Linked DNA regions of Homo sapiens: region 1 is linked to region 2. Evidence: fine-mapped expression QTL. A gene starts in region 2. The other region holds a variant in brackets. All regions are shown on one strand. Distances are from middle to middle.

Region 1 (5,369 bases), 25 kb before region 2:
AGGAGAGCATGAGGGGAGAGAAAGAAAACAAGAAAGCACAGGTGTTCACAATGCCAAGAAGAAAGATCAATGAGATGACCAAACAAGAGGCACTGTCTTTTCTGGCTACCTAGTAGGGAGGACAATGTAGAGTCTCTGAATAGACAGTGGTCCTACCCACAGGCACACTCAGTGACTATAAGCTTCCTGAGAGCAGGGCTGTTCTGAAGAGATTTGAGTTTTCTCCTGGCCATGGAGAGTGTAATTAAGTAGCCCTGGGCCCTTGAAGACTTATAGTGCAGGTTGACTGAAAGAACTAAATCAGCCAGTCTTTGCGGAGAGGTTGTCATGCAAACGAAGTGCTAAGGGTCTTGCATGCATCCCTTCATTTTATCCTCACAATAGGCTGTGAAGTAGGCACCGTCATCCCTGTTGTGCATTGTGCAGGCAAGAACACCACCAAAGCAAATGGGACCAAGACAAGACATTGAGAAGGAATGAGACAAACTGAGACTCTGAGGACTGGCAAGGGCTATGGAGGGTGGAAGCAAGATAGGAGAAGGAGGAAGACAGACATATAGAGGTGGCATGGCAGTGGGCAGGGAGAGGGGGCAGCAGGTAGAATCAGACTCCAAGAGGCCTCAAAGGTCCAATAAGCAGCGGTATCTGGGAGGTCTGTGGTTTACAAACTCTTCTGCTTATGGACTTCGTAAGTGGTCAATTAATCTATTTATGAATTCTGTGCAGGTACTACTTTACTCTTATGATAGATTATAAATAATGTAATACTTGAAATTAAGAAGGAGTGACATGAGGTCGGGCGCAGTGGCTCATGCCTAATCCCAGAACTGTGGAAGGCCAAGGTGGGCAGATAACTTGAGGCCAGGAGTTTGAGACCAGCCTGGCCAACATAGTGAAACCCCGTCTCTACTAAAAATACACAAATTAGCTGGGTGTGGTTGTGCATGCCTGTAATCCCAGCTTCTCAGGAGGCTGAGACAGGAGAATCACTTGAACCCGGGAGGTGGAGGTTGCAGTGAGCTGAGATAGCGCCACTGTACTCCAGCCTGGGTGACAGAGCAAGACTCCATCTAAAAAAAAAAAAAAAGAAAAAAGGAGTGACATGAAAAGTTAATAGAACTAGAAGCAGAAGCACTAAATCTTTCTACACCCCAGTGGATTGTCTTGTCCACAAATAAAGTGGCTTAACCAAAATGGAGAGGGAGGCAAATCAATTTCTATGCACCATCTAGAAGAAGTTAAAGGGCCCTCCTGGATGGCTTTATTCATGTTGATGAGTAATAATAATAACTGCTACTGGCTGAGGATCTTCTCCATCCCAGGCATGTCAGGGATGCCTAAGTCCCCAGTCCCTGCTCCAGACCAGACATGCTTCCAGCTGTGGCAGTAGAGGGTGGTGGTCTAGGGTGCTTGCTAAGCCCAAGGGTGAAACTGTCTTGACATCCCTCCGCCCATTGTCTCCTCCTAGGTGCCATGCCTCTGCAACTCCTCCTGTTGCTGATCCTACTGGGCCCTGGCAACAGCTTGCAGCTGTGGGACACCTGGGCAGATGAAGCCGAGAAAGCCTTGGGTCCCCTGCTTGCCCGGGACCGGAGACAGGCCACCGAATATGAGTACCTAGATTATGATTTCCTGCCAGAAACGGAGCCTCCAGAAATGCTGAGGAACAGCACTGACACCACTCCTCTGACTGGGCCTGGAACCCCTGAGTCTACCACTGTGGAGCCTGCTGCAAGGCGTTCTACTGGCCTGGATGCAGGAGGGGCAGTCACAGAGCTGACCACGGAGCTGGCCAACATGGGGAACCTGTCCACGGATTCAGCAGCTATGGAGATACAGACCACTCAACCAGCAGCCACGGAGGCACAGACCACTCAACCAGTGCCCACGGAGGCACAGACCACTCCACTGGCAGCCACAGAGGCACAGACAACTCGACTGACGGCCACGGAGGCACAGACCACTCCACTGGCAGCCACAGAGGCACAGACCACTCCACCAGCAGCCACGGAAGCACAGACCACTCAACCCACAGGCCTGGAGGCACAGACCACTGCACCAGCAGCCATGGAGGCACAGACCACTGCACCAGCAGCCATGGAAGCACAGACCACTCCACCAGCAGCCATGGAGGCACAGACCACTCAAACCACAGCCATGGAGGCACAGACCACTGCACCAGAAGCCACGGAGGCACAGACCACTCAACCCACAGCCACGGAGGCACAGACCACTCCACTGGCAGCCATGGAGGCCCTGTCCACAGAACCCAGTGCCACAGAGGCCCTGTCCATGGAACCTACTACCAAAAGAGGTCTGTTCATACCCTTTTCTGTGTCCTCTGTTACTCACAAGGGCATTCCCATGGCAGCCAGCAATTTGTCCGTCAACTACCCAGTGGGGGCCCCAGACCACATCTCTGTGAAGCAGTGCCTGCTGGCCATCCTAATCTTGGCGCTGGTGGCCACTATCTTCTTCGTGTGCACTGTGGTGCTGGCGGTCCGCCTCTCCCGCAAGGGCCACATGTACCCCGTGCGTAATTACTCCCCCACCGAGATGGTCTGCATCTCATCCCTGTTGCCTGATGGGGGTGAGGGGCCCTCTGCCACAGCCAATGGGGGCCTGTCCAAGGCCAAGAGCCCGGGCCTGACGCCAGAGCCCAGGGAGGACCGTGAGGGGGATGACCTCACCCTGCACAGCTTCCTCCCTTAGCTCACTCTGCCATCTGTTTTGGCAAGACCCCACCTCCACGGGCTCTCCTGGGCCACCCCTGAGTGCCCAGACCCCATTCCACAGCTCTGGGCTTCCTCGGAGACCCCTGGGGATGGGGATCTTCAGGGAAGGAACTCTGGCCACCCAAACAGGACAAGAGCAGCCTGGGGCCAAGCAGACGGGCA[A/G]GTGGAGCCACCTCTTTCCTCCCTCCGCGGATGAAGCCCAGCCACATTTCAGCCGAGGTCCAAGGCAGGAGGCCATTTACTTGAGACAGATTCTCTCCTTTTTCCTGTCCCCCATCTTCTCTGGGTCCCTCTAACATCTCCCATGGCTCTCCCCGCTTCTCCTGGTCACTGGAGTCTCCTCCCCATGTACCCAAGGAAGATGGAGCTCCCCCATCCCACACGCACTGCACTGCCATTGTCTTTTGGTTGCCATGGTCACCAAACAGGAAGTGGACATTCTAAGGGAGGAGTACTGAAGAGTGACGGACTTCTGAGGCTGTTTCCTGCTGCTCCTCTGACTTGGGGCAGCTTGGGTCTTCTTGGGCACCTCTCTGGGAAAACCCAGGGTGAGGTTCAGCCTGTGAGGGCTGGGATGGGTTTCGTGGGCCCAAGGGCAGACCTTTCTTTGGGACTGTGTGGACCAAGGAGCTTCCATCTAGTGACAAGTGACCCCCAGCTATCGCCTCTTGCCTTCCCCTGTGGCCACTTTCCAGGGTGGACTCTGTCTTGTTCACTGCAGTATCCCAACTGCAGGTCCAGTGCAGGCAATAAATATGTGATGGACAAACGATAGCGGAATCCTTCAAGGTTTCAAGGCTGTCTCCTTCAGGCAGCCTTCCCGGAATTCTCCATCCCTCAGTGCAGGATGGGGGCTGGTCCTCAGCTGTCTGCCCTCAGCCCCTGGCCCCCCAGGAAGCCTCTTTCATGGGCTGTTAGGTTGACTTCAGTTTTGCCTCTTGGACAACAGGGGGTCTTGTACATCCTTGGGTGACCAGGAAAAGTTCAGGCTATGGGGGGCCAAAGGGAGGGCTGCCCCTTCCCCACCAGTGACCACTTTATTCCACTTCCTCCATTACCCAGTTTTGGCCCACAGAGTTTGGTCCCCCCCAAACCTCGGACCAATATCCCTCTAAACATCAATCTATCCTCCTGTTAAAGAAAAAAAAAAATGGGACTGGGAGCAGTGGCTCATGCCTGTAATCCCAGCACTTTGGGAGGCCGAGGCAGGTACATCACCTGAGGTCAGGAGTTCAAGACTAGCCTGGCCAACATAGTGAAACCCTGTCTCTACTAAAAATACAAAGATTAGTCAGGTGTGGTGGCACATGCCTGTAGTCCCAGCTACTGGGGAGGCTGAGGCAGGAGAATTGCTTGAACCCGGGAAGCGGAGGGAGGTTGCAGTGAGCTGAGATCACGCTACTGCACTCCAGCCTGGGTGACAGAGTAAGACTCCGTCTCAAAAAAAAAAAAAAAGATTCAATGACCCTTGTTAAAGCATGGTAAGGAAGACTTTGTTCAAGGGGAGTGGGACTCTCTCAATCACTGCAGGGACTGCAGCTATGGGATTTTGCAGTGGGGGCATTTGGGCTCAACTATGAGTACAGCAGGGGCAAGTGGGAGCTGATAGCCAGGGAACAGGGTTGGATATCTGCAGCTGGAAAATTACCAAGAGGAAACATCAGGGGAAGGGGAATTCTGGCTAAACTGACTGCTGGGGATGGGTTCTCGGTCATTTTCTACACTGACCTAACAGGATTCATACTGGAGGCAGGCCAGGGTGCTCAGACATCACCGGGGGGATGGTGGCAGATGAGGAACGTGATCAGATATAGGAGGTGATCAGATATGGGAGGTGATCAGATATGGAGTGGTGGGGGGAGGGTTGTTGCTAAGCTGACTTAGCAGAGTTCTTGTTAGAACTGGATTTTATTTATTTATTTATTTTGAGATGGAGTTTTGCTCTTGTTGCCCAGGCTGGAGTGCAATGGCGCGATCTGGCTCACTGCAACCTCCGCCTCCTGAGTTCAAGTGATTCTCCTGCCTCAGCCTCCTGAGTAGCTGGGATTACAGGCATGCGCCACCACGCCCAGCTAATTTTGTATTTTTAGTAGAGATGGTGTTTCTCTATGTTGGTCAGGCTGGTCTTGAACTCCCGACCTCAGGTGATTCTCCCGCCTTGGCCTCCCAAAGTGCTGGGATTACAGGTGTGAGCCACCACGCCCGGCCCAGAACTGGATTTTAAAAGGAAGTGCACAGATGGGCCTAGGAGAGGACTCAGGGGCCTGACTGATTAAAGCTTGGCCAAGCACAGAATCTTTCCCACTCTCCAGAAGCTCACCCTGACCTCTCCTTTTCACTCAGGCCCTGTCTCTCATTAACAGCCAGTAGCTTATTGGTGATCCTAGATGCAGCCTGCAACCTTTTGTACAACTCACAGAAGCACTGATTTGCTGTCAAATGGTGGAAAAGTTCAAGCTGCCAAACTTTTTCTTAAAGGACCAAACAGTGAATACTGTAGGCCTTAACTGTTGCAACACCATAGCCTCTGTTGCAACAACTCAACTCTGTCCTTGTAGTACAAAAGCAGCCACTGACAATATGTCCATAAATGAATGCGCATGGTTGTGTTCTAATAAAACTTTATTTACAAAC
Region 2 (5,369 bases):
GCAGCAACAGGGAACTATACCCTTGGCCTTGGCCTGTGCTTTTGACATTGCTGAGCACGTGCATGCTCCCTAGCTCCTCTGCCTTCCCCTGCCAGCTTCCGAGTAGTAGGGAGTCTCCATCTCCATTTTACAGAGGAGGAAACAGAGGCTCCATGTGGGGCAGGACATGGTGGAGGCAGGATTTGAAGTGGGTCTGTCTGCCTCTCGCTAGATGAATGAATGAATGAATGAATGAATGAATGAATGTAAGGGGCTGCTAATCCACGGGACTCCTCAGGTCAGCCAGATGTCCTGGTTCCAGGGCCTGCCACTAACTCACCTCAGATCCCTGCTTGAACCATTAGAACTCACCTGCCTCACTTTCCCCCTCTGTGAAATGGGGCTCCAACGCCTATTCAAGCTACTATCATTGGGGGCATTGTGAGGCCACAGATCCCAGAACAAACCCTCCAAACCCTCATTGACTCCCTACTGCCTCCTAGGTGACCTTCCAATACTTTAGCCCAGCTCCTGCCAATGTCTCCAACACTTACTACCCCTCCTTCAGGGGGATGCTCTGCCCAGGAGGGAGAAGCAAAGAACGAGGGGAAGGGGACTCCGAGAGCTTCCCTCAGGCTGGGCCTCTGGGGCCACCTGTGCAGGGAGCAGGCTCTATTTGGGTTGGTTGTGTCCCTGCTCCTCGACATCCCAAGGTCCCCAGACTGCAGCCCTCAGAATGTTGGGTAAGGTCTTCTTCCCCTGCTGGTGGGCCCTGGGGGAGGTTTGGCTGCCCCTGACCACCCGATGTCTGGTCTAAGACAGGTCAGGTAGGCCTGGAACACCCCTGGCCACCTTAAAGCGGGCACAGCTGCTACAACATGTCTGTGGGTGGCCACTTGCCCCTGGGACATGTGTGTGCATGAATGTGTCTGTGCGAGTATTGGTGGATGGTCCCCTGTTCCCTCGAAGATGCAGGGTTTGGGGTGATTTCCAGAGAAGATGGGAAAGTCTCTGATTTTATTTCCCAAGCAAATGACTGTCCCAGTTTTCTGGGGGTGAGCGAGGGCTGCTGGGACCATTGCAGGGAACAATGATAATCTAGGCTTGGTTCCTACCCAGAGAGCACGCACTCATCCTTCATGCACTCCCCTGTTCCAAACCCTCACTGGCTCCGTACTGCCTCCGACCTTCCGAGACTTTAGCCTGGCTCCTGTCAACATCTCTGACCCTTACTACATGATCCTCTCTTTGGTCCATGCTCCAGCCTAATCTAATTGCGGTGGCTTGTGCGTGGTGGCATTCCCAGCCACCATACCTTTACCCACGCTGGTCCTTCCATGCGGAATGCCTTTCCAGGGCCTGCTTTGCCCGCTTCTGCTCATACACAGGCATGCCCTCCAGGATGGCTTCCTACCTCTTTCCCTTGGGGGATTGATCTCTCTGTCTTGGGGTTCTCGGAGCCCTTGACCTGACCCCTTTCTGTTTGGCAAAAAAGTAATTTACCTCGGTGTCCTTCTCCCTGGTAGTCTGTGAGCTCCCCAAGGCTGGGCTGTGCCTGATTCACCTCTGGAACTTGCTTAGCACAGTGCGTGGCCTGCTGCAGGTGTTCATTGAGCACTTGCCGAATGAATGCATGAATGAATGAATGAATGAATGAATGCAAGGGGCTGCTAATCCACAGGACTCCTCAGGTCAGCCAGACGTCCCGGTTCCAAGGCCTGCCACTGACTCACCTCAGGACCCTGCTTGAACCATTAGAACTCACCCTGCCTCACTTTCCCCCTCTGTGAAATGGGGCTCCAACTCCTATTCAAGCTACTATCATTTGGGGGCATTGTGAGGCCACAGATCCCAGAACATCAGAGTCAGAGGTAGCCCAGAAAGCTTCCCACCCATCCCTACAAATGGGAAACTGAGGTCTGGAGAGGGAAGGGCAGAGTTGGGCTCCCTGTCTCAGGCTCGGACCCACCATCAGGCCTGTCTCTAAAACGAATCCCAGCTCCCACGCTGCACCCTGAGCCTGGAAGCCTGAGCCACACAAGGACGGGGAATTTTCCTTCCCACTTCCAGAGGCCTCTGAACCTCCCTGAGCTTGTCCCCTTTGGAGGGTATTGGGCAGCAGCGTGGGCAGAACCCCAGCTCACTGTCTGGGGGAGCGCTGCAGGACAGCCTTGTCTGTCTGTCTCAGCCTGCCCTGGGGACCCGAGGTCAGGGAGGAAGTGCCGCATCTGGTCTTCCCCAGAGCGAGAGTGTGAGCAAGGGTGGGATTGCGTGTGGCCCGAGAGTAGCCCCTCCCCTCCCCCTGTCCCCACCCCAAACCCTCTTAATGAAATCAAGCTGGCCCTGCGGCCCAGCCGGGGAGGGAGGAAGGAGGAGGGACGGGAGGAGGGACGGGAGGAGGGAGGGCGGGCAGGCGCCAGCCCAGAGCAGCCCCGGGCACCAGCACGGACTCTCTCTTCCAGCCCAGGTGCCCCCCACTCTCGCTCCATTCGGCGGGAGCACCCAGTCCTGTACGCCAAGGAACTGGTGAGTCCTGGGGTCCCCTCCTCTGTCCTGAGAGCCTGGAGCTATCTTGGAGCTTAGGGACTGGGGACTGTTGGAGCACTCTGGGGGGCCTCTCTAAGTGTGTGTGGGCTTTGAGTGTGTGTTTGGTGTTGTGTGCATGAGTGTGGTGGAATCTGAGTCCCGTGTGCGGTGCTGGGGTGGGCCAGGGTGGGCCGGAGTGTTGTGTGTGTGCGGCTGGGGCCTTGGTGTAGGGGGTGTGTTGCTTCCACTTTTCTGCAAGTGGATGCCAGGCTGTTGCTTCCAGGATCTGTGTGAGGGTGATGTGGACGGTATTGTCCTGTGTGCAGGGATCGGCTGTGTGTCAGGGGGTTGTGTATGTATATGTGTTGTGTGTCCGTGTGTGTTCTCTGTGTATTGTGTGCATGGGCCATGAGAGTGCTGTTGGGTGTCTCAGTGCTGTGTGAGTCGGTGTGCCTGTGTTGTGTGTCTTTATATTGTGTGTCCATGCTGCTCTGTGTGTGTGTGTGTGTGTGGAGGGGGATTGTGCCCCCAGGACCCCCCTCCCCATCCAGACCTCCAGGGCCCAGGTCCCTGTCCTTGGCTGGCCCTGGGGTCGGGGGCATGTGCAGTGCTCCAACCAGAACACCCCTCCCCCACAAGGCCACTGATTGAAGCCAGGTTTCCGTGGGCCGCCCCTCCCCCAAAGGCCACCAGTCTCTGGGTGGGGGTGGGGCAGCCCCCGGTCCCCTAGCTTCAAGTCTTGGGGCCCCCAGGCCTCAGGGGTGCATCTGCACTCCTCCACAGACTCAGGACCATCTTAGGGCATTTGCCACACTTACACACGGCCAGCCCTGCCTGACATGTCCCCAGGCAGGGAGTCCTGGGCAATCACGTGGTACCTGCTAATTGGCACCCACTGTGCACCAGGCATGGCCGCATCTTGTCCTAACAGCAGTCCAGGGAGGTGGCTCTTATCCCCATTGTACAGATATGGAAACCGAGGCTCAGAGAGGTGACATGCCCAGCCCAAGGACACATAGCCGGGAAGTGACCTCCTCTGGGATATACCAAGACAGGCTTCTCTGTCCAGGGCTCTGCTGGGCTCACCCCTGACTTTCTGTGTGACCTGGGCAGGCTGTTTCCAGTCTCTGGACCTGAGTTACCTCTAAGGTGAAGCAAGAGGCGTTGGGCCTGACCCCAGCTCCTAATGGCCTGTTAGATTCTGAGTCCTTGAAAAAATTAGGGTCCGGGGGGAGGTAGGCAGAATAATGACTTCAGAGCTGCCCAGAACAGTGCTTCATTCCACAGATGGGAAACTGAGGCCCAGAGAGGGCAGGGGCCGTCCAGGGCCACACAACCATCTTTTTTGAGGCTCTGCTGACTGCAGGTGGGGCTGGGTCCTCCATACGTTGCCCCCACCTTTCCCTGGAAGCCAGGAGGGGTTGTGGGGTGCAGGGGACTCTGAGAGTCAGGGTCTCAGCCTTAAAGAGCCAGTGGCAGTTTGTGTGTTCTCCTTTCTTGCCCTCTGCCTCTGACTTCGTGTGTGTGTGTGTGTGTGTGTTGTATGTATATGTGTGTGTAGGTGTATGTGTGCATGTGTGTGTATGTGTATGTGTGTGCATGTGTGTGTTTGGTTCTGCATTCCTTGGCGGCCAGAGCTAAAGAGGTTTCACTGAACGGGGTGAAAAGGTTGGTCTTTCACTGGGTGGCGGCCGGACCAGACAGTGAGCGCATGTTCCCATCCGGCGATGGTGCTCATTTGTCGACTCAGGGTGGGAAATTGCTGGCTGAACCTGGAGTTCGGCTAGGGAAGGAATTCAGCTACCCCAGACCCTATCTTTCCTCGGGGCTCAGCTACTTCGCACCAGGCACTCTCTGAAAGTTGTCTCATTTGGCCCTAACAGCTCTGAGAGGTGCTACCTGTGGTCACCCTGTCCCAACTTACGGATGGGGAAAGTGAGGCCCACAGGAGCCAGACCACAGAGCTGGATGCGATGGAGCCGGGATTCTTGACCCAGCCAGAACTTGAGTGGGTCTCCAGCCACCCATGGTCCCAGCTGCCCTCTGCAGTGAGAAGTGGTAGTTGTTGCCACAAAAGCTCTCTCCTAGGCTTGACTGGGGGTGGGAGGCAGGGAGGTGACTGGCAGGTCACAGACCCCAAAGCTCAAGGTTGTCTGTAGGAACCTTTGCTAACAGGTGCCAGAGAGGTGAGGGGGTCCTTTCCTCATTTAGCATCTGACAGGTGATGTCCACCAGCGGGAACAAGCCATTCCTGGCTCAGAGTGTGTGGTGTGTGCATGTGTGTGTGGTTGTGTAGGTGAGTGTGTGTGGTGTATGTGTATGGTTGTGTGTATGTGGAGTGTATGCATATATGTGTGGTGTGTGCATGTGTGTATGATTGTGTGTAGTATGTGAATGTGTGTATAGGGGTGTGTGTGGGGCATGTGTGTACGTGGTTGTGTGTGGGGTGTATATGGGTATGTGTGGCGTGTGTGCATGTTTGTGTGTGGGGTGTGTGTGCATGTGTGTAGATGATTGTGTGTGTAGTATGTGCATGTGTGTATATGGGTGTGTGAGTGTGTGTGTGGTATGTGTGTGCATGGTTGTGTGTGGTGTGTGTGCATGTGTGTATGATTGTGTAGTCTGTGCATGTGTGTATATGGGTGTGTGTGTGTGTGGCGTGTGTGCATGATTATGTGTGGGGTGTGTATGGGGATGTGTGTGTGAGTGTGTGGCGTGTATGAATGGTTGTGTGTGTGGTGAGTGTGCATGTGTATGTATGGCTGTGTATGAGTGTGAGTGTGGTTTGTGTGAATGTGCGTGTAAACTCCTGGGATCAGACAGAGGAAGGTTCAGATCCCAGCTCAGCTACTTATCATCTGTGT

Evidence for each region. PIP is the estimated chance that this variant, and not a neighbour inherited with it, causes the effect.
Region 1: its variant is fine-mapped to the expression of TMEM119 in whole blood (TOPMed, PIP above 0.99).

What each region holds. Positions count from the first base shown.
Region 1 is chr12:108,620,412-108,625,780 of GRCh38, reverse strand. SELPLG (selectin P ligand) reads left to right here. Exons shown (of 2, transcript NM_003006.4): 2 at 1,469-3,886. The coding sequence starts at 1,474. The coding sequence ends at 2,712. Among named protein-coding and RNA genes, the nearest start is that of SELPLG, 11 kb to the left of the region's middle. The variant A/G (reference allele first, on the strand shown) is at 2,898.
Region 2 is chr12:108,595,106-108,600,474 of GRCh38, reverse strand. TMEM119 (transmembrane protein 119) reads left to right here and starts at 2,391. Exons shown (of 2, transcript NM_181724.3): 1 at 2,391-2,505.